Linked DNA regions of Homo sapiens. The protein of the gene in region 1 purifies or fractionates together with the protein of each later gene. This does not show direct contact. Each region holds a gene or a part of one and is shown in the gene's direction. Other genes may lie near its edges. The genes, in order: FBXO10, PDE6D and ACSL4.

The links.
Region 2: the proteins of FBXO10 (region 1) and PDE6D purify together in Homo sapiens (affinity purification with mass spectrometry; 3 studies listed by BioGRID and IntAct, with this or other methods). This does not show direct contact.
Region 3: the proteins of FBXO10 (region 1) and ACSL4 purify together in Homo sapiens (affinity purification with western blotting; 3 studies listed by BioGRID, with this or other methods). This does not show direct contact.

Annotation. Positions count from the first base shown.
Region 1 is NC_000009.12:37,517,347-37,524,451, reverse strand, and holds part of FBXO10 (F-box only protein 10), read left to right. Parts: intron 1-1,474; coding exon 1,475-1,627; intron 1,628-1,963; coding exon of another isoform or gene 1,964-1,995; exon of another isoform or gene 1,996-2,106; intron 2,107-2,613; coding exon 2,614-2,883; intron 2,884-6,013; coding exon 6,014-6,327; intron 6,328-7,105. UniProt on the Homo sapiens protein: Substrate-recognition component of the SCF (SKP1-CUL1-F-box protein)-type E3 ubiquitin ligase complex. Mediates the ubiquitination and degradation of BCL2, an antiapoptotic protein, thereby playing a role in apoptosis by controlling the stability of BCL2.
Region 2 is NC_000002.12:231,736,281-231,743,385, reverse strand, and holds part of PDE6D (retinal rod rhodopsin-sensitive cGMP 3',5'-cyclic phosphodiesterase subunit delta), read left to right. Parts: intron 1-2,279; exon of another isoform or gene 2,280-2,429; coding exon of another isoform or gene 2,430-2,507; intron 2,508-4,183; coding exon of another isoform or gene 4,184-4,197; coding exon 4,198-4,286; intron 4,287-5,247; coding exon 5,248-5,373; intron 5,374-6,093; coding exon 6,094-6,199; intron 6,200-7,105. UniProt on the Homo sapiens protein: Promotes the release of prenylated target proteins from cellular membranes. Modulates the activity of prenylated or palmitoylated Ras family members by regulating their subcellular location.
Region 3 is NC_000023.11:109,730,218-109,738,089, reverse strand, and holds the start of ACSL4 (long-chain-fatty-acid--CoA ligase 4), read left to right. Parts: upstream 1-4,832; 5' UTR 4,833-4,951; exon of another isoform or gene 4,952-5,579; intron 5,580-7,872. UniProt on the Homo sapiens protein: Catalyzes the conversion of long-chain fatty acids to their active form acyl-CoA for both synthesis of cellular lipids, and degradation via beta-oxidation. Preferentially activates arachidonate and eicosapentaenoate as substrates.

The DNA of each region.
Region 1 (7,105 bases):
ACATGGATTGAGCACGTGTGGTATACAGGCCGTGTTCCAGGAGCTACAAGTGCAGCAGTGAACGAGGCTGTCAGCCACTGACATTTTAGGAGAGGAAGCGAATAAATAAATAAAAGCCTACGTATATGAGCAAAAAACATCCCATCTGAGGGTGACAAGTGCTCTATGGATAATTAAGGCAAAAGAGGGACTGGGTAGGCATTTGGGATTGTGTGGTCAGGGCAGCCCTCTGAGAAGGTGACAAGGAAACCAGACCCTGAGTGGGAGTGGCTGGAGGAGCTGGGAAAGAACCTTCCGTGTAGGGCCGCCTGTGAGAACAGACTTGGCATGGCCGAGTGGACATCGCTTGTGGGACTGGAGTGTGGTGCACAAGGGGCCTGCAGTGGGGACATGGAGACAGGAAGAGGCCAGTCACACAGAGACTCCTGAGCCATTGCAGGTGAGGCTAGCGCCTTCTCACAGGCTTGTGGGTAAATGGCCACATTCTGCCTCTGAGGACTCTAAAGCCAGTTTATTTATTTATTTTTTTTGAGACGGAATTTCACTCACTCTTGTTGCCCAGGCTGGAGTGCAATGGCGCGATCTCGGCTCACTGCAACCTCCGCCTCCCAGGTTCAAGTGATTCTTCTGCCTCAGCCTCCCGAGTAGCTGGGATTACAGGCATGTGCCACCACGCCCAATTTTGTATTTTTAGTAGAGACGGGGTTTCTCCATGTTGGTCAGGCTGGTCTCGAACTCCCGACCTCAGGTGATCCGCCCGTCTCAGCCTCCCAAAGTGCTGGGGTTACAGGCGTGAGCCACCGCACCCGGCCTATTCTTTGTTTTGTTTCCTTTTTGTTTGGTTGGTTGGTTTTTTGGACACCAGTGTCACTCACCAAAGCTAGTTTATTCTTTTTTTTGAGGCAGGGTCTCAGTCTGTCATCCAGGCCAGAGTGCAGTGGCTCGATTATAGCCCACTGCAGCCCTGACCTCCAGGGTTCAAGTGATCCTCCCACCCAGCCTCCCAAGAAGCTGGGACTACAGGCACGCACCACCACACCTGGCTAATTTTTTTTGTATTTTTTTTTAGAGACAGGATTTCCCCATTTTGCCCAGGATGGTCTGGAACTCCTGGGCTCAAGTGATCTACCCGCCTTGGCCTCCTAAAGTACTGGGATTACAGGCATGAGCCACCATGCCTGGCCAAAACTAGTTCATTTTTAATCATCAGTCCTCAAGGCCATTGGGTGTATAGTAGGTGCCGGGGAGATAGGAGTGCACAAGATAGACACAAGCCTTGCCCTTGGGGAAAGGAGTCAGCAGATAAGTCCCTGAAACATCAGACAGCAGACAAGATTTACAGTGCTAATTGCTGGCAGGGTAAGGCCAGGGCCTTCTGGTCTGGAGTAGCCTTGATCAAAACTGTCCAAGTCCTATTTGCCAGCACTGGAGCTGGCCCTTGGGTACTGACCTTCTTTTCTGCTTCTCTCCATAGAAAATGTCATCCGTGAGAATCAGTGGGGAGGTGTGGACATCCGCCGTGGAGGGATCCCCGTTCTCAGGAGTAACCTCATCTGCTTTGGCTATTCAGATGGTGTGGTTGTGGGAGACGAAGGCAAAGGCCTCATAGAAGGAAATACCATCTACGGTGAGGAGCTTGTTCCCAACCCAGCCGGGGAGGCAGGAAGCCCAGGTTCCATCTCCAGCTTGTGGGTCCTGAGAAGGTCACTGCCTTTCCCTGTGCCTCAAAGACCTCATCTGAACAGGCACTCTCAGGCCACAGTCACCCAGGCCCTCCCAGAACAAAGAGCCTCTTACAAATCACATTGTAGTCCAGATTGACCCCGTGGGGTTAGCAAAGCAGAAGGCTTTATCCCCTTTTAAAATAGCAAAAGACAGGAGTTGTGTCATGTCTTAAGGACAGGACCATTTCAGCCCTGGCTCATGTGCATCTAACTCCTCTTATCCTTTCTTTTGATCCCAGAGAACGGAAAATATAATGGGAAAACAAGATAATCACAGGAAGAAAACTCTTCTCACTCACGCAGTGACTTTGGGCAGAGCCTTCATCTGTCTGGACTCTATCTCTAATAATACAGTGATAATAATAAAGATGACTCAGGCCCACCTCTCTACTCAGCCCTTTCTATGCATGATCACATTTAATCCTCATGACTGCCTTCTGAAGGAGGCACGGTTATTAACCCCATTTAAAAGATGAGAAAACTGAGGGACAGAGAGAGGTCTGGTAACCTGCTCAGGGTCTCACAGCTGGGAAGTGGTAGGGCTGGGATTCCAACTGAGGCTGCCTCCTATGCAGGGAGGGATTGGTGCCCCCTTGGCACTGTCACTGTGGGCTCATGTGCTTCTGATGTGGACATGTGGCCTGACAGTCCTCAGAGCACTTTCACACTGTGTGGAACGAGCCGAGCTTGTGAGGTTCACCTGATCCTGATGACCTCTCTTGTGTGAAGGTGAAGTCTGCAGCTAGAGCCATCAGGTGGCTTGTCCGAGGTCATTAGCAAGGCAGGGACTCTCTCCCAGGCCAGTGGCTTTTGTTTCCCCTCTCAGGGAGACTCAGGTGCCGCTTCACCTGAGTTCAGTGTCGGTGACCAGCTCCTCTCACTGTCCCAGCTAACAAGGGCTGTGGTGTGTGGATGATGTCGTCCAGCCTCCCCCATGTCACCAGCAACCACGTCAGCTACAATGGCCTGTATGGAGTGGCAGTATTTAGCCAGAAGGATGGCTCCAGCGAGTTACCTCGAGGCCACAGGGCTCAAGAGAACTTCAGCGAGGATGGGGACGCCATCCTCTGGGAGACAGAGCTGGAGAAGGAGGACGACCCACTGCGCCGGCCCATCACCATAGCTCTTGTTGAGTCTAACAGTATTAATCACAATGGAGGTGAGTATACCCCCTCAGCCCCTGCTCAAGAACCTTCCATGGCTCCCCACTGTCTTTTTTTTTCTCCAATTTAAAACTTTTAATTTAATTTAAATTTAAAAGTAAACTTTAATGTCAAAGATGCAAACCTGGGTAGGGCAGAAAAATCACACACAAGGTTGCCACTTCACACTTGGAGGGTTGCACAGCGGCCAGGCAGAGGCGCTCCTCACTTCCCAGACAGTGTGGGGGCCAGGGAGAGGCGCTCCTCACTTCCCAGACAGCGTGGGGGCCAGGGAGAGGTGCTCCTCACTTCCCAGACGGTGGGGCGGCCGAGCAGAGGTGCTTCTTATTTTTGAGACGGTGCGGCCGCCAGGCAGGGCCTTCTGCAGACTGATCCCAACTTGCCCTCAGGCCTCATCAGCCACTTCTTCCAGCCTGATCCCCAATCCTCCTGTATTTATTCATTAAACTTGAATCCATTCTTTCCTGCCTCCTAACCTGCTGACCTCACTCATGCCTTTCTCCCATCCACACGTCCCAAACTAACTTGAACTTCAAAACCTGTTGTGAATATCCCCCTTCATTCCTTCCTCCTTTGAACTGGGCCCTCCCCATCCCCACTGGCACTTGTTATGAGGCCTCGCGACTGTATTTATTTCTGTGGCTGTTTCATCAACACTGATAGGCCATGAACTTGAGACAAAGAACTGAAGCCCACCCAGCTCAGTGCCCCTGTCCCTGCAGTACCAAATCCCACCTCTGGCACACATGCTTTTAATCAACTCTAGGATACATTTCTCAAAATTCAACATCTCCCACGAGATGCATATCATGGTTTAATTGGCAGTGAGTTTTCCTTCTTAGAGAGGCAGAAAATAAAAGTGTTTTAAATCCATGTTATCCTAAACCTGATGAAAAATGGAGGCCAGGTGCCAGGGATCAAGCCTGTAATCCCAGGACTTTGGGAGGCCAAGACTGGGGGATTGCTTGAGGCCAGGTGTTCAAGACCCGCCTGGGCAACATAACAAGACTTGGTTTCTACAAAAAAAAAAAAAAAAAAAAAAGAAGAAGAAGGAGTAGAGAAAGAAAAATTAGTTGGATCTGGTGGCATGTGCCTGTGGTCCCAGCTACTCAGGAGGCGGGGGGATCGCTTGAGCCCAGGAGTTCAAGGCTGCAGTGAGGTGTGATTGCACCACGGTATTCTAGGTGCTCAGAGCTCAGGAGTGACAGGAGCAAGACCCTGTCTTAAAAGGAAAAAAAAAAAAAAAAAAAAGATGGTAGAAGATGTTTGATATTTCTTGAATTAAAAAAAAATAATTACTGTGTAGTTCACCTAACTCCAGGGCTCCCAAAGCCTCCTGATTATCAAAATCACTGTGGGGTGGGGGTGGGAGGGTAGGATGGATGGGTGGGTCGGGAAATGGAGGAAGGCTTATTCAGAACAGATTCCTGGGCCAGGCGCAGTGGCTCACACCTGTAACCCTAACACTTTGAGAGGCCAAGGCAGGAGGATCGCTTGAGTTTAGGAGTTCAAGACCAGACTAGGCAACATAGAGAGACCTCAATCTCTACTGAGAAAAAAAAAATTTTTTTCAGATTAGCTGGGCATGGTGGTACATGCCTGTAGTTCCAACTACTAGGGAGGCTGAAGTAGGAGGATGCTTGAGCTCAGGACTCAGAGTTCGAGGTTGCAGTGAGCTATGATGGTGCCACTGCACTACTGCCTGGGCAATAGAGCAAGACCCTGTCTCTAAAACAAAATAAAATTAAAAGAGATTCCTGGGCCTGGTAAGCACTTGCTTCTGGTAGTGGTAGAGGACAGGGAGATGGATAACCAGCAGCCCCAACCCACTTATTCAGAAAATGAGTTCTGTCTCCTCCCAGGTCAGAGGTTCCTCCATGTGGCCATGCTGTCTGTCCGGTACGACAGGCAAAGCCACCTACGTTCACAAATACTTATTTTTGTTGTTCTCAACCAAGCCAGGAGAAGCAACAGGCTGGTGCCACCAAGAGATTTGAGCTTGCAGGCTCATGGCTCCAGACACTGCTGCAGGGCCCCAGTCATTGTCCTGCACACAACCTCCCCCAGCACTGCCCCAACCCTTGTTGCTGTTGGTGGGCAGAGGGACCTACCGCAGAGCCCTCCTCTCCTCGCCCCCGGGTCTGGCTGCCCTGCTTTCTTTTCCTGACAAGCCATGGAGCTCTAATCCTGCTGACTTGGGGTTTTTCTCCTCATGTACCTAGTGTCTCTAAGTACACACAACCGCAAGCGTCAGTTTTCCTTTCCCAAATTTCAAACACATTTTTGACACATATTACTCGCTTAGTAAGTTTTTGTACTCCAAAATTACAGAACTTACATTAAGAAGAAAATTTCCGGCCAGGCATGGTGGCTCACGCCTGTAATCCCAGCACTTTGGGAGGCCGAGGCAGGTGGATCACGAGGTCAGGAGATCGAGACCATCCTGGCTAACACGGTGAAACCATGTCTCTACTAAAAATACAAAAAATTAGCCGGGCGTGGTGGCGGGTGCCTGTAGTCCCAGCCACTCAGGAGGCTGAGGCAGAAGAATGGTGTGAACCCGGGAGGCGGAGCTTGTAGTGAGCCGAGATGGCGCCACCGCACTCCAACCTGGGCGACAGAGCGAGACTCCGTCTCAAAAAAAAAAAAAAGAAAATTTCCCCAAACAGTAGGGAGGCAGATTCCAGGTTAGTGTAGGAAGGAGAGCAAAGCAAAACCCTCTAATGAGTAGATCTGCCTGTCCAGAGGGGGAGTGAGCAGCCTTGAGGCGGCAGTGAGCACCCCGTCAGGGAGGTGTAAGCGGCAGTAGGATGGCGGTGGTGCAGGAGGCATTCAAGCACACGGTGGGAGCTCAGGCCAGAGGAGCCTTCTCACATGGTGTTTCCCTGGCTACACTGAATAAGGACTTCATGCAGAAGAACCAGAGTTTTGTTGACGCACCTGGATTTCCTCCTGCTGTTTCATCAGCTTGGAAGACGCAAACTCAAGGGTTGTTTCTGAGTGTTGGTACCTCTTCTTCTCCACTCCGTTCTCCCGGAGTGCACAATTCAGGGAAGGCTTTTCCTGACTGGTGGTGTCAGGGCTGACCCTGGGACCCCCTGTGCTTTCCAACCCTTCCACCCATAGCCTCAGGACTCTATGTCCAGAGCAGCGAGGCACTGCATGTCATCACCAATGTGATCCACGCGAATGGGGACAGAGGCATTACTGTGGCCCAGAGCAGCCAACCCACCCGAGTGGCCAACAACAGCATCTCCTGCAACCGGCAAAGTGGGGTCAAGGTTGAGGCCCAGTGCAAAGTGGAGCTCCGGGGCAATGGTATCTATGACAACAGAGGCCACGGCATTATCACCAAGGGCGACAGCACCATCGTCATTGAAAACGATATCATTGGCAACCGGGGCAGCGGGCTGCAGCTGCTGCCCAGGTCCGACACTAAAGTGAGTATGTCTGCATGTGTGTGACGTGTGGTGCCCACACAGGGCACAACCCTGGGATAGTCCTCGTGGCCTCTGCTGAGAACAGAACCGTAATCACTCAGCACTACAAGGGACAGTATCCCTCCTGCCAGGACTCAGCCTGGGAAATGTGGGTGGGACTTCCCACAGGGGGGGACGGAGAAGCTGAGTCCTGAAGGATGAACAAGGGCTCACCAGCAGGAAGCCAGGGATGGGGTGTCCCCTCCTTGTCATGGTGTTGGGAGCCTCCCGAGTTATCTTCATGGTCTCCGGGTCAAGGTCAGGACTATTTCAGCTCTCTTTCCTTAACAGAATAATCATGCACAGTGCCTGCTGTACAGTAGATGCTTCATGAAGAGAGAGATCCTGCCTTGGGGCCTTTGCATACACTCTTCCCTATATACCCTGCATACCTCCTGCCCGCCTTGCACTGCAGTCCTGCAGCTTAGCTGTATCTTTGTTCAGGAAGAGTCCCTGAGCTCCCACCTCCCACCCCAGGCTGTTTGAGTTATCTCTTGTCTAGTGCTTTTGTCCACACATACCTCACAGAGCACTCCCCACAGGGCTTGGTCCTCACAGAGCACTCCCCACAGGGCTTGGTATCTCTTCCTTCACCTATTTGTCTCCCCACCGGACTGAGCTCTGAGCACCTTTCTATGCAGAGCTCCGTTTCACTGTGGAGCCAAACAGATCTTGTTCCTGCCCTTATGGAATTACGATCCCAAGGGCTCTATTTTTATTTTTAGTTCAACAGTTTTTG
Region 2 (7,105 bases), on another chromosome or scaffold:
GATCTTGGCTCACTGCTCACTGCAACCTCCGCCTCCTCTGTTCAAGCGATTCTCCTGCCTCAGCCTCCTGATTAGCTGGGACTACAGGCGCACACCACCACGCCCAGCTAATTCTTGTATTTTTAGTAGAAACGGGGTTTCACCATGTTGGCCAAGATGGTCTTGATCTCTTGACCTCGTGATCCGCCCGCCTCGGCCTCCAAAAGTGCTGCAATTACAGGCGTGAGCCACGACGCCCAGCCGAGACTTTTCTCGTATAGCAGCAAAACCTAGACAGAATCTCTCCAGAGGGTAAAATATAGTGTTATTACACACATGATGATTCCAGTCAGCTGTGTTGTTTAGGGTTCTTCACTGCAAGCTATTCAAACAATGGGAAAGGGTATCTGAGGCTTTTGGAGCTGCCTGGAAGTTGAAGGACAGGGTCTGTAGCAAAGACCACACAGTAGGAAAGGGCAGGTTGGCATGCCCCTGCTGCCCCCACCCTGAAGAACTTCCAACTCCCTCGAAAGTCCTGTAGCTTCAGGACCCCAGAACTGGGTAGCACGTGTCCAAGGCTAGGCCTTCTTGTGCTCACCCCTGATTATGCCAGGGCTGGGAGAAAAGGATCTGGCCTTTCTAGCTGCTGTAGTGCAAAGCAGTCACTGCCTTCCACAAGGTAGAGACTCTCTTCTTTGGGAAGAGAGTCTGATCACAAGATAGCAAAAAAAGAAAACCAAAAAAAAGACACATGTAAACTATATCTATATTATACATATATTTATCTGCAGCTCAGTCTCTTCGCAAATATTAACGATCTTTTGCAGACAGCCTCTGTGCTTGCATAATGTTAATTTTCTTTTCCTTTAATGGTTTGTCAATTGTTTTTTAAAACAAAACAAAAAAAACCTTAGCACTCTCTTCTTAAAGTTAGTCTTTATTTTTATTAAGTTGTATGTGTTCATCATTTAAAGAATCATAGTCAGCCGGGCAAGGTGGCTCACACCTGTAATCGCAGCACTTTGGGAGGCCAAGGCAAGCGGATCACCTGAGGTCGGGAGTTTGAGACCAGCCTGAACAACATGGAGAAACCCCATCTCCAGTTAAAAATACAAAAATTAGCCGGGCATGGTGGTGCATGCCTGTAATCCCAGCTACTCAGGAGGCTGAGGCAGGAGAATTGCTTGAACCCAGGAGGTGGAGATTGCAGTGAGCCAAGATCATGCCATTGCACTCCAGCCTGGGCAACAAGAGCGAAACCATCTCAAAAAAAAAACAAAAAACACAGTCTATCTAGTTTCTAATGAAGAGCACCACTCCCTGTCCCCCTATTTTCTACTCCCCAGAGAAAACTATTTTCAATCCTTTTTAGCTTATTTATTTGGTATTCATCTTGGTATTTCTAAAAAGCAAAATGTGGCTATGTCGTAATGTTTCCATTTTAGCATTATTTATCCACTTTCCACTACGGAAAATGACAGTTTTGTTGTTTCTCAACATTTCGTGCCTGACTATCCAGATATACATACTCTTGTTCCCCCATCCTCCCAGGTAAATTATATTGGGTGTTAGCATGTGCTTTCATTGTTATGACCATATCAGCACTACTTGCAATGAAGCCATGAGTTATACTATGACTACTTTTTTCTTCCAGTACTACCTTTAATTTTTCTTGATGTCAGTACTTGGATTTTTGTCATTTGCTTAGATTTTCTGTGCTTCTCATGAATTTGACCCCAAAATCTCCCTCTAATTGTATAAATCTCCTTTCCATATAAACACACTAGGTATTCTATGAATTTTATCTTTTTAAAAGAAAATCTCTTCCTGAGCTTTGTGACCTGCTCTAGCCTGGACCCTGGACTAGTCACTCTCCAGACCTGTTAAAGAGCTATTGTCTTGGGATCTTCCTTCACTGTCACTCAGGGGACTCCCTTCAGCTGTTTCTTGCTTGCTATATCCCATGTCATCCCCTTTCTTGGTTTTCTCTGTCATTTTGATGAAGCCATATTTTCCTTAGTTTCTTAAGAAAGCAAATATTTTTTAGTTTGTTTCAGGAATTGTTTCCCTGAAAATTTTAAAGGCCCTGCTAAGTTGTCTCCTACCCTCCAGGGTTCCTTTTGAATTTGATTTATTCTGATTTTTTTTCCTATTCTGATTTGACCCTTTGTATAATGACTTGTTTAACCTCTGGAAGCTTTTCGCTTTTCTTTATCTTTGATATTCTGTAAATGCACTAATGATGTGACTTGGGCATTTGCTACACCCTTTTTTTTTTTTTTTTTTTTTTTTTGAGACAGGGTTTCGCTCTTGTTGAGGCTGGAGTGCAATGGCGCAATCTCCCGGGTTCAAGTGATTCTCCTGCCTCAGCCTCCTGAGTAGCTGGGATTACAGGCAGGCACCACCACGTCTGGCTAATTTTGTGTTTTCGGTAGAGATGGGGTTTCTCCATGTTGGTCAGGCTGGTCTCGAACTCCCGACTTCAGGTGATCCGCCCGCCTCAGCCTCCCAAAGTGCTGGGATTACAGGTGAGCCATCGCTCCTGGCCTAGACACTTTCCATCTACGAAATTTTCTTGAATTAATTTATTGATGCCATCCTCCCCTCTGTTCTCTCTGTTCTACCTTTCTAGAACTTCTATTAGTTAGACACTAGAACTCTTGGACTATTCTTGGACTATAAGTTTTTGTGCCTTTACTCTCCTTTTTTTTTTTTTTTTTTTTTTTGAGACAGGGTCTCCCTCTGTCGCCCAGGCTGGAGTGCAGTCGCATGATCTCGGCTCACTGCAGCATTGATTTTGTGGACTCAGGCAATCCTCTCACCTCAGCCTCCAGAGTAGCTGGGACCACAGGCATGCACCACCATGACTTGTTAATTTTGTATTTTTGTAGAGATGGGGTTTCACCATGTTTCCCAGGCTAATCTCAAACTCCTGAGCTCAAGGAATCCACCCACCTCAGCCTCCCAAAGTGCTGGAATTACAGGTGTGAGCCACCACACTCAGCCTGCTCTCCTGTTTTCTATCCTTGCCTTTTTCGTTCTGAAAGCTTTCTTCAATTTTGTCTTTGTGTTGAGTTGTTTGGTTCTGCTATCAAAATATATGTGTTTCTAGAGTTCTTTTTTGTTCTCTGAATATTCTTTTTTAAATTGGTATTATTGACTCATTTAATGTATGAAACAATACAGAAACTAGAAAATATAAATACTTATGTTAGAAGGCATTTTCTGACAGAGAACATCAGTTAACCAGCTTCATAAGTTGTAACCTCAAACCAGAGAAATTCACCTAAAATATACAGAATTTTATTATATTAATTTTTAGTGTCTGTAAAGGTTATGTCTTATCTCTCTTTTTTAATGCTCCTTTTTAAAACTTATGTCTTTATCTGTAAGCCTCTTTATTCTTCTAAGTTACTTTTTTCTTTTAGTTTGTTTTGGTCTGTCTTTCATAATAAATGCTTTCTTAAATTTCTGTTGATACTTGGCTATCTTCTCATATTTAAAAACAGGGCACTCAGAGGCTGAGGCAGACAGATCACTTGAGGTCAGGAGTTCGAGACCAGCCTGGCCAACATGGTGAAACCCCATCTCTATTAAAAATACAAAAATAAGCTGGGCTTGGTGACGTGCTCCTATAATTCCAGCTACTCAGGAGGCTGAGGCACAAGAATTGCTTGAACCAAGGAGATGAAGGTTGTAGTGAGCCGAGATTGTGCCACTGCATTCCAGCCTGTGTGACAGAGTGAGACTCTGTTTCAAAAAAAAAAAACAGAGGGGGCCACTACAAAGCAATTTGAGAGTTCTGTGCTTGTGGGTGAAGTTTATGGACTGTGGCATTCACTATAGAGTGATCTTCATGAGTTGTTTCCTTGGGGTACATCTGATATTTGTTTCTTTAGGTATTTTATCTTGGTTGGTCAGATCCTGTTGGTAAATTTTAAATTTTGCACTATTCGTTTTCTGTCCCTTTCTTGCAGTCTCTAGGTGTGTGCAGTCTTAGGATTCTCATAGATAAAAGTAACTTCTCTAGGTTTCTGCTTCTTCCTTTAGATGTCTTTTTGACTCTCCTCACATTCTTATGTGCTTCCATGGCAATGAGCAGTTTGACAAACTTTTTAAAAAGTAAACAAGAGTTGGTGGGAGTAAACATGAGACACCTAGAATACAAAGTGGGAGTCACTTTCAGTGCCTTATTTTTCCTTAGTCATATTTGATCAGAAATTGGATGAACCTTCGGGATGCTGAGACAGGGAAGATACTCTGGCAAGGAACAGAAGACCTGTCTGTCCCTGGTGTGGAGCATGAAGGTACTTTCCAACCCTTTATCTACACAGGGCTGTGACCAATGCCAGACTAGCACCTGAGCATAAGAGAGCTAAGTTAACACATACCTAATAGGCGGGTGAGCCCCTGAAGACACAGCATGTTAATCCATGTGTTGTTGACAGTTTCAGTTACTTTCTTTTTTTTTTTTTTTTTTTTTTTTTGAGACACAGTCTTGCTCTATCACCCAGGCTGGATGGAATGCAGTGGTGTGATCTTGGCTCACTGCAACCTCTGCTTCCCAGGTTCCAGCGATTTTCATGCCTCAGCCTCCCGAGTAGCTGGGACTACAGGCGTGCGCCACCACATCTGGCTAATTTTTGTATTTTGAGTAGAGATGGGGTTTCACCATGTTGGCCATCCTGGTCTCGAACTCCGGACATCAAGTGATCTGCCCGCCTCAGCCTCCCAAAGTGCTGGGATTACAGGTGTGAGCCACCACGCCCAGCCAGTTACTTTCTTAACAGTTCTTTCTCTCACTTCCCAAAACCCATTTTGTGCTGATATTTTACCATTAGAACATACCCAAAGATAGAAACTAAGATCTCAACTTTTTCTCCAAAAGAAAATTTGCATTTTTATCTCCCTGAAGTAAAGAAGAAGGAAGGGGTTAAAATCACCAGAACAGAGTAGAGAGAAGGTACCCATGCAGCCCCCTTCCTGATGAGAGTAGTTAGATGAGGCCCTTAGATGCACAAAACCTGGTGTTCCTTGAAGATCTAATATCTTTCAGATACGGGTGACCAATTAGAGACCTCTGCTTTCAGCCACACAAAGTGTAATGCACTTACCAAGGCATTATCCAAAATGTAAGAAAGTGTTCTCTAAATCAGCTGTAAGAAAGTGTTCTCTAAATCAGCTGTAAGAAGCTCCCAGAAATTTGAAGCATCATAGTCCTGTGGTTTTCATTTAGAAAGGCTTCAACATTTGTTTTTCTCTTACCAGCCCGTGTTCCCAAGAAAATCCTCAAGTGCAAGGCAGTGTCTCGAGAACTTAATTTTTCTTCGACAGAACAAATGGAAAAATTCCGCCTGGAACAAAAAGTTTACTTCAAAGGGCAATGCCTAGAAGGTATTCTGCTGCCTACATGCCTGAAATCAGGGCTTAGGGCGACCAGGACAAAAGGCAACAATACCCAGTGAACTAAAGCAGTGCTTTGATAACATTCCTTTTACAACTCAGTTTGTGGTAGGATTCCTACACTCTGCAAGACTGTGAATCCCCAGTGAAACAAACCAAAACAAAGCTAGCCACTACAAGGGGCTTTGAGGTCTCTGACACTGGGAGCGTGGATGGTGGTGCCTGGTTTAGGCACTGACGTTGTATTGTGATATGATCATGGAGGAAGCTGCTATGAGCAGGGCCTAGTACAGTGCTCTACATACAGTATCATACAGATTTGACTGGCAAGGCCACTCTGCATTGAATTCTCACCATGCAGTGTAAAGGGCACATAAGCCCCTTCAAGCTAATTCCAAGTGAATTTAACTATGTATCTATATATAGTTCACATCTAGCCTACCTCTAAGAAAATGCTGCTTATATTGTGTCCTGCTCGCTGGTCCTAGTCCTTTAGACCTCAAAGCATGAGAAGCAAGCCTTTGGTGTGGTTCAGAGGACAACCTGAGCAGGCTTCCCTGTCTTTTTTACGCCCCTGGTCTGAGAGGTTGCTGATAGCTTCCTTTGGTGGTTCTCAGGGTAGGAAGAGGCTCACTCTAGAGAGGGAGACAAAGAGCCCTTAAACTTTATACTGGGGCACCTGCTCACCCCGGCTTTTCCTTCTTCCTTCAGAATGGTTCTTCGAGTTTGGCTTTGTGATCCCTAACTCCACAAATACCTGGCAGTCCTTGATAGAGGCAGCACCCGAGTCCCAGATGATGCCAGCAAGCGTCTTAACGTGAGTGAGCAGGTCTCAGGAAATTATGAAGTGTGTCTAGAAACAGGCATTCCAGGCAGGTGGGACTCCTGGTGCCATTCAGTGGGCAGAGAGCTCGGTTGAGAAATAGAGTAAAAGAGTATCCAAGGGTATCTAGGTTTCCAGGTTCCTGACCTTTTTCATATGAAAAAGACAGTATGATAGAGTAGAAAGAATAAAAAACTAAAAATAAAAATAAAACTTTAGATTAAACCAGATTTAAATTCCTGATTCACCCTGACTACCTGTGTCATCTTGGGCACTAATATACTTTATCTCTCTGAGCCTTAGTCTTTCATCTCTAAACACAGAAATTAATTCTGTCTTACAGAGGTGTAATGAAGATAAAATGTGATGACATGGAAGGAGACTGGCATTTAATATATATACCGAATCTATGTTAATTTGCTCCCATTCCTGACTACCGTACTTCCGGTATCTCTGTATTTTGTTTAGATCACCTTTAACAGAATCTGGCAAAGTCCTATTAATAATTCTGTTTTCGAGGATACTACTTGGTTACAGTTTTTTGGAGAATGGCTTACCATATTAATAGCTTTGGTTCCTGTTCCAAGAACAATTTGTTTGTGCTTTTTCCAAAAACACTGTCAATAACTTCCTACCTCCCATTGTCTGTGGGAAAGATGTTAGTCTCTCAAATGTTATAGTAATAGTACCTTCTAAAGAGTTAGCTGGGCGTAATGGCACACACCTGTAATCCCAGCTACTCAAGAAGCTGAGATAGGAGAATTGCTTGAACCCAGGAGGTGGAGGTTACAATGAGCCAAGATCATGTCACTGCATTCCAGCCTGGGTAGCAGACCAAGACTCTATTTCAAAAAAAAAAGAGTTAGTCCCACAGATAATTGTGTAATATTGGATCATCTC
Region 3 (7,872 bases), on another chromosome or scaffold:
ATACTGCCAAATTGTCTTTTAAAAAGGCCAGACTGGGTGCAGTGGTTCACGCCTGTAATCTCAGCACTTTGGGAGGCCGAGGCAGGTGGATCACCTGAGTTCTGAGTTCAAGACCAGCCTGCCCAACGTGGTGAAACCCCATCTCTACTAAAAATACAAAAGTTAGCTGGGCATGGGGGCGGGCACCTGTAATCCCAGCTACTCAGGAGGCTGAGGCATGAGAATCTCTTGAACCCGGGAGGCAGAGGTTGCAGTGAGCTGAGGTCGTGCCACTGCACTCCAGCCTGGGCAACAGTGCAAGACTCTGTCTCAAAAATAAACAAATAAAATAAAATAAAGGGGCCAAACCAATTTACGCTCCTACTTAGAATATATGAGTGCAAGTTTCTTCATATTCTTGCCAAAATTGAATATTATCAATCTAAAGATCTTACCAACTTGAAAAGAAAAATTAAAAATATTTAATAATCTTTTATATCTATTTCTAAAAGTAATAATTATTCATTCAAACATATTGTTAAAAATGTTTTATTTGAATAACAGTAATTTGGCTTGTATCAGGTGCCATGTAGGGTCCAAGTGAAGCAGACAGTTTTATTACAGAATTTTGGTTTGAAGAGGGATGCTTTGAATAAATATCCAAAGGTTTAATCAGTCCAATAGTCCCAGTGGGGACTATTCACTCAGTTTCAGAGTGAAATAGTCCCATAATTATTTAAGCATAATTATGGGGTTTGTCTATTTCATAGACGGCATTAGCAACAGGAATATTTGTAGGATTGATGGGAATGGAGATTAACTTGGAGGTCAGATAGTGACTTAGTGAATGAAGTGGCTGTAGACCACTTCTCAAGGAATTTGTCCTTAGTTGTAAAGAAAGTTACTGAATAGGAGAATCTGGAGAAAGATTGTTCTGGTTCTAGCTTCCTTTTTCTCATCTGTGAAATGAAGAGGTTGAACTTGGTGATTAATAGCCATCATTTTATACACACTTGCCATAAATCAGGAATTTTATAGGCATGATTTCATTTAATCCTCCCTCAGAAGAGTCTTATGAATGAGGTACCATTATTATCCCCAATTTACAGAAGAGGCTGAGGCTCAGGAAAATGTTATATAACTTGGTCTAGGGTGGTTGGCTTAAGTCCAAACCCATATGGTTTCCATCGTGCTACTCTGCATCTAAGTGGCTTCCCAGCACTAATAGTCGAAGATTTTGAGTAAGGGACATTTTAAAATTTTGTTATTTTACTGGTCTTTTAAGAATAGGACATATTGGAAGCTTTTTGTATGTTAAAGGGAAAGCATAATAAAAAGAGATTTAAGGCAAGTTATGAAATTGATGACCTATCTTTTTTTGTAATATTACTAGGCTAGAATCACTACAGAGAGTGGGCAAAAATATACCAAAGGCAACTTTCTTACAGATTCAATGACAACCACAATAGATTTTTCACATACTCATGGCCTTATGGATAATAAAAATATTTTGTTATTTTTGATTCTTTATGGGAAGGTCACACAAACAATTTCAAGGATAACTGTGGAGGATTTTATTTAGAGGGTGTTGTAGTTATCTTTAAAAAGGACAAATGAGTTTCATGAGAGAAACCGAAATTAAGTTCCATTAAAATCCTGCTGTGATTTTGATGTGGACCACACTGTCTTGACGGATTAATTTGGAAAAACTTGACTCCATGCAATACTGTGTCTTCCTATCTGGGTGCACTAGATGTCTATTTGTTTTGGTGTTTCCATTAATTTAAAAACCTGAAAAATGTGCCAGAATGAAAAGAAATAGTTATTTTGAAAAAACAAATCATTTCTCAAAAATAACATTTAGATGTAGCTACTATGCCTTTGATCATTTTTGAAAGGAGTGGCTTAGGTTATTATTTATGTTCACAGTGAGATGATCATCTACGTAGGTTTCTGATTTCACCGGTTGTTTAACACAAGCCACTAAAGACAATATTTGGCCTGGTTGTTGGGTCTGCAAAAAATAAGGTTTGTTAATGACAAAATCTAACACAACTTGTCAATGCAAATATTATTATGAAGCCCTGCTGCTTGTATTTAGACCACAGGAGAAAATTATTATTATTCTACAAACCCGTGAAGTTTAACACGCAAAGGCTTGTTACACAGTCAATGAAGAACAGTTGTTTTCTGCCCTTCCATAAATAACTAATGCCAAGAGCAGCCTGGCTATCTGTTTCAGCTTCTTGTTACAGAATAATAAAATAGGCAAGGCCTAAATATCAGTGCCTGTTAACAGAGCTGTCCTTTAAATTCTGTTTAGCTTCTAACAGACTAATTCTCATGCTTTTAGTACTTATTACATTGCATTTTGAATCTGTCAATTGCATTGTACATTTTCCTAACTCTTCCATTTCCATACGTTTATCTACTCCATTTCTAATTGGGTTGGTAGTTCTGGGTAGGACTCATTACAGAGGCAGCTTAATGTAGCGGCAAGCACCCTGGTCTAGGAGTCATAAGCAGTGTAGTAGGAAATTCAGGCTCTGTTACTACTTAGTTGTGTGACTGGACAAGACACTTAACCTGCATCTATTTCTTCATCTGTGAAATAGGGATAATAATACCCTATCTTCCTAACTAATAAACAACGTTGCAAATGTTCTCTTTAAAATGTCAGACAGCTGCTTGGGAAATATTTTGCTCCTGGGCAGTAATTTCTGGAAGGTTTCTGATGACAAGAAATTAAGCAAGGTTTGTTTTGACTCCGAAAAAGGAAAGCTGGAAATAGCGTGGTTATACTTGGTTTCCTTTTTGGAGGTATAGTTCTTCTTTCCTCTTCAACTTGGGTGCAGTTAAATGTGGAAGAAGGTGAGATGTGGTAGGTGATGAAGACAGCCAGAACTGTACACACTAATGAATAGCTTAAGTAATAAGAGATCTTGAAAATCCAAGTAGTTTCTTGGTCTGATAAACATATCTATATGTATATCATACACACATTTGTATACCAAAAAACGGATAGTTTCAGGCTATAGTGATTTCTTTCCTTTATATCTTGTAGAGCTGGAGGAACTTCAGTAAGCTGAAGACTCTGTTCAGAGGAAATTACCTAATTGAAAATGTCTGGGCTAAGAGACCGACAATAAAGGAAACTGGCAAAAGTACTCTTTAATTACAAGTTCTTTTTCATCTTCATCCAGCACACTGATTTATGTGCTACACTGGGTTTGTATTATATCTATATTTTAATTCCACAACTAGACACTAACTTTATTGAGAACAGCGATATTCATTTCTTCAATTTCATTTGTGTTAACCCAACTGTAGGTGATAGTGCTCTGTACATCATAGTTACCCAGTGAATTACGTACCTGACATATGATTGCTTATTTCTGGTATTAAAACAAGATTTCATAAAATAAACATGACAATTAAACTCGTTGTTTGAAGTACTGAACTTTGTAGGTCAATCTTGAAAAAGGAAGCTACATGACTGTCTTAGCAATATTTATAGGTATATTATATGTAAGTGGGTGGGTTTCTTGGAAATTGAATTGGTAATATGGCTTTAGAGTAGTAACACAAAAACTATAGCTCTGTGCTCTCAGCTAACCACTTTTAGTGTCACCTGGGCTGCTTATTAAAAATTCAAATTTCTTATCCCTACCCAGATCAGAATCAAAATACCTGGGGGTTGTAGCTCCAGGTACCTACATTTCAACAAGCACCCCAGATAATTGTGATGCACACTGAAGAACTACTCTAGCTTGTAATCTCAGGTGGTAAGGCATTTTATATATACATATATATATACACACACACAAGCACAAATGGTAATTCTATGGGAAAATGGAAATCAGCAAGTGAAGTGAAATGTCAATTACCATCAGGAACAGGAAGCTAGTTCACCATTACGCATCAGGGAACTGGAAGAATTCTTGAGATTTATTTTTTTGGGTGATATATTCTTGGCAGTTTATCAGGCCTCATTTGCAATTATGGTCTGTCCCTTTTGAAGCCCTCAGATAGTTCGCTGGCATTTTAATTTTAATAGCAATTTCTTGCATCTGTTGGAACAGCATTCGTATGACCGGCTTATAAGCAATGATCAGGGCTAGTAAGATGTCACAAAGCTGCGGTGACTTTTCCTTATCAGTTGGGGGTTTTTTTGCCATGATACCATCGTGGAAATGAAAGACAACGTGAAAATCCTGCGTCCTTGTGATATTTCATCAGTGGGAGTGAGCGGGGATCTTAACGCAGTAAGAGGCAAGATAAACGGATGAGAGGCATTAGTTCAGGCTTACAGGAGCAAGATGCTTTTAGTCAAAGTGTTCAAGATAGCTCTCTTAAAGAGGAGCAGTGAAACCCAAAAATGAGTGTCTTTTGAGGGCAGCTGGAAGATGACCCGAGGGGAACTTTTATCCTGGGGTGGAGTCCTGCGAAGCAAGCCGCAGGTGAGGGCGTGGGCCAATTCTGCGCCTCACTGCTGTTAGGCGCAAGGACATCCCGAAACACACTCAACGACACCAGCAGCGAGACTGACAGAAGCGGATCGCCAGCGGGAGCAACAACTTGAGGCGAGCCGTTAGCCGCCTCGCCTTCCTCGCAGCGCCCCTCCCGCGCCCCGGGAAGCCCGTTCGGCTCCGCCTTTTCGACTGACGTCCCGGGCGAGCGGGGGCGGGCGCGTGGGTGGGCCGAGCCGTCTGCAGCCAGCGATTCGGCTGGCTCTGCCACACCACCGCGCGCCCCCGCTCCGCCCGCCCCTCCGGGCGCGTCTTTTCCGGGCTCGCGCTGAGTCCCGCCTCCGCCGGCTGTCCGGGTGCGCGCGCGCCGCTGCGGCTTTTTCTCTGGCCTCCGCCGCGCGCTCCTCCTCGTCCCAGCGCTAGCGGGCACGCGGTTCCTTTTTGCGAGCTTTCCGAGTGCCAGGCGCCGGCCGGCTGCGAAGACGCGGTGGGCCGCCCCTCCGGTGAGTATCCCTGGATGGGGAGGTTGCGGCCCCGGCACCCCTGCCCTGTCGGTACCAGGGCCCCATTTCCAGAGGGGGACTGGCGTACCTCACCTGAGCCGGGAGGAGGTTGGGTGGGCATTCCAGCTCCTGGAGTCGGCTCGCTTTTTTCCTTGAGCCAGGGCTATCTATCCGCTCGCCTCCGCTGGGGCCGGGAAGATTCCCGAGGTCACTGTATCTGCTCCTGTGATGGACTCTGGGGTCCTCGGAACCCCAGCCTGCCTCTTCCTGCCGCTCACCGCATCCCGAGGGCCAGAAGTCATCTTCCTGATCGGGGTACTAGGCTTTGCCACGGCCCTTTCCGGAGGAGACCATGAAGTGCTTGCTAGACCTCCAAACGACCTTTAGGGTGCCCCTAAACCTCAACTCCATTTTGTCCCCTCCCAGTCGCTCTGTAACTGAGGGCTAGGGAGCCTCTCTAGCCCTAGAGGCATCCGCCCTCTCGAATTTGAGGGATGCCGTCGCTTCCGATATCTTCCTTGCTTCCGATATCTTCCTAGCTTCCGTAGGCTTAGGTTTGTTAGAAAACAGCTGGATCCTGGCGAAGCGTGCTTTCCTTCCTTCCCCCACCCCCGTTCTTTCTGTCTACATCCCTGCCTTCAGTGGGTGCTATATATTTAGTATGAGCTTTATTCACTTCCTCTTCCTCTCGTTTGAGTGCCTGAAAGAACTGTGGCTGATGTCTATAGACATAGAAAAATCTAGGAGAATATGATTCATTGTCTAACCCCATCAAGGGGTTACATATTTTAAATAAGACGTCATTTCTCCTCTTCACTCCAGCATCTCCTCCTTCAAAGGCATTTTTCACCCTCTTGAAATTAATACGCTCTATTCGCTCTTTTCACCTAAAAAAAGGTCAATCGTCGCTCTGAGAAACAACAGTGAGATGCAAAATAAGGGTAAAATGGCATTGAAATGAATCCCTTTGAAAAAGTAAGCGGTTTGCTTTATCAGTTAATGGTCTCATCAGCGCTTCAGTTTCCTCTTCTGCAAAAATCAGTCTGTTGAACTAGAGCATATCAAAGGTTCCTTCTAGTGTTTTGATTCTAGGACCTCTAAATTCATGCAGGCTGCATAATGCAAATTTAACCTGATTAAAGCCTTATTTCTCATAGTCGCTTGTCACCTTAGTTTTTCTTTTATTTTGTCTCTAACAAGAAAGACTTTTAAATGTTCTTGATACGTAAGGCAGCAGGTGGAGATTCAATGATGGTACTGCCATTGAGCATATCGGTCAAGATTTTAACAGTGTAAGGCCTCTTCCTTAAATTGTAAAATAGCTCATCTTTTGATTGAAACTGCTAAAGTGTAAGACATGTAAGACTCCTGTTAGAATTAACACTCTCTGCCATTTAGGTGGGGGATGAAACATTAAACTGTTAGTATACTTGTACCTTAGAATAAAGTACCTTATTGTCCTGCTATAAGAAATAATTTGACAACTAAAAATCCATGGAAGGTGTAATACAGCAATTGAAAGCTTGAGTAAATTCAATTTTGTGGGTTTTTTTTTTTTTTTGGAAAACCCCCTATTTAAAAACACAAGTGATTTAGATTAAGATATTTCTTTCAGTATTTTTGGTAGGGGTGAGATGGGTGAAGAAAGAAGAGTCTTGTTCAATTCAGACAAGAGAAATGAATTGGAACTCTGGAGAGGCTCAGGTTCTAGACCCAACTCTAGATATATATTTAACCTTGAACAAGTCACTTCACCTCTCTTAGTTTTTGCATCTGTAAAATAAGTGTCTTTATGGTTGTTGAAATGATCCACAAGTCCCCCAATTTGAATGATATATTCTTATAATGAATATATATGACAAATATATATATACACACGTGTATATATAGGTATACACACACACATATAATGCAATTTGCGTTAAGGCTGTTATAAATCCTGTTATACCAGTTGACTAGAATGTTTTTCTCAAAGGTTTGTGTATAGTGGTTTCAATTTAGGTATACTTAGTTCTTAATCCTGATTAAATAAATAATTATATGTGAAAATCTATAAACTCAGAAGCATTTTACAAATGTTGGGTATTATGTTAATTTCTGCTTGCAAGTGAAATGTGTGTTATACCGCACTATTTTTTAAATGTCCATGGCTTTTAGAAATTTATAAGGGAATGGCTGGGTGTGGTGGCTCACGCCTGTAATCCTAGCACTTTGGGAGGCCGAGGCCGGCGGATCATGAGGTCAGGAGATCGAGACCATCCTGGCTAATACGGTGGAACCCCGTCTCTACTAAAAATACAAAAAATTAGCCAGGCGTGGTGGTGGGTGACTGTAGTCCCAGCTACTTGGGAGGCTGAGGCAGAAGAATGGCGTGAACCCGGAAGGTGGAGCTTGCAGTGAGCCGAGATCGCGCCACCGCACTCACATACTGCCTTACAACTGTAATTGGCTAGGAACTTTAAAATAATATGTGGGCATCTCATTCATTTATTAATTCATTCAACTATCTTCTTCCTTCATCTGTCACGTATGTCAGGCCCTCAGGACATGATGGTTAAGACAAACCCTACTCTATGAGTTTATACTTTGGGCTGATGGAGATGGTTGGGGGGCATGTGGAGAGACAGATGTACATCCAGTTTATTTTTGTTAAAAACAACAACAGTCAAATCAAGGACAAACAAAATTCTGGAGAAGTTAAGTTTCCATAGGGGAGGAAGAGATGATTCTATTAATTGTAGCCTGTAGACTCTTTGACATTACCTTTTTCTCCATCCTTTCAATTGCTGAGCCTTTAGCAAAAATAAAAGCTTTGTTTTTCCACTTCTACCATTGGCTGGTCTTATATACTCTTTCTTTCCCTTTTAACTTTTTATTTTGAGATAGTTGTAGATTCACATATAGTTGTAAGAAATAATACG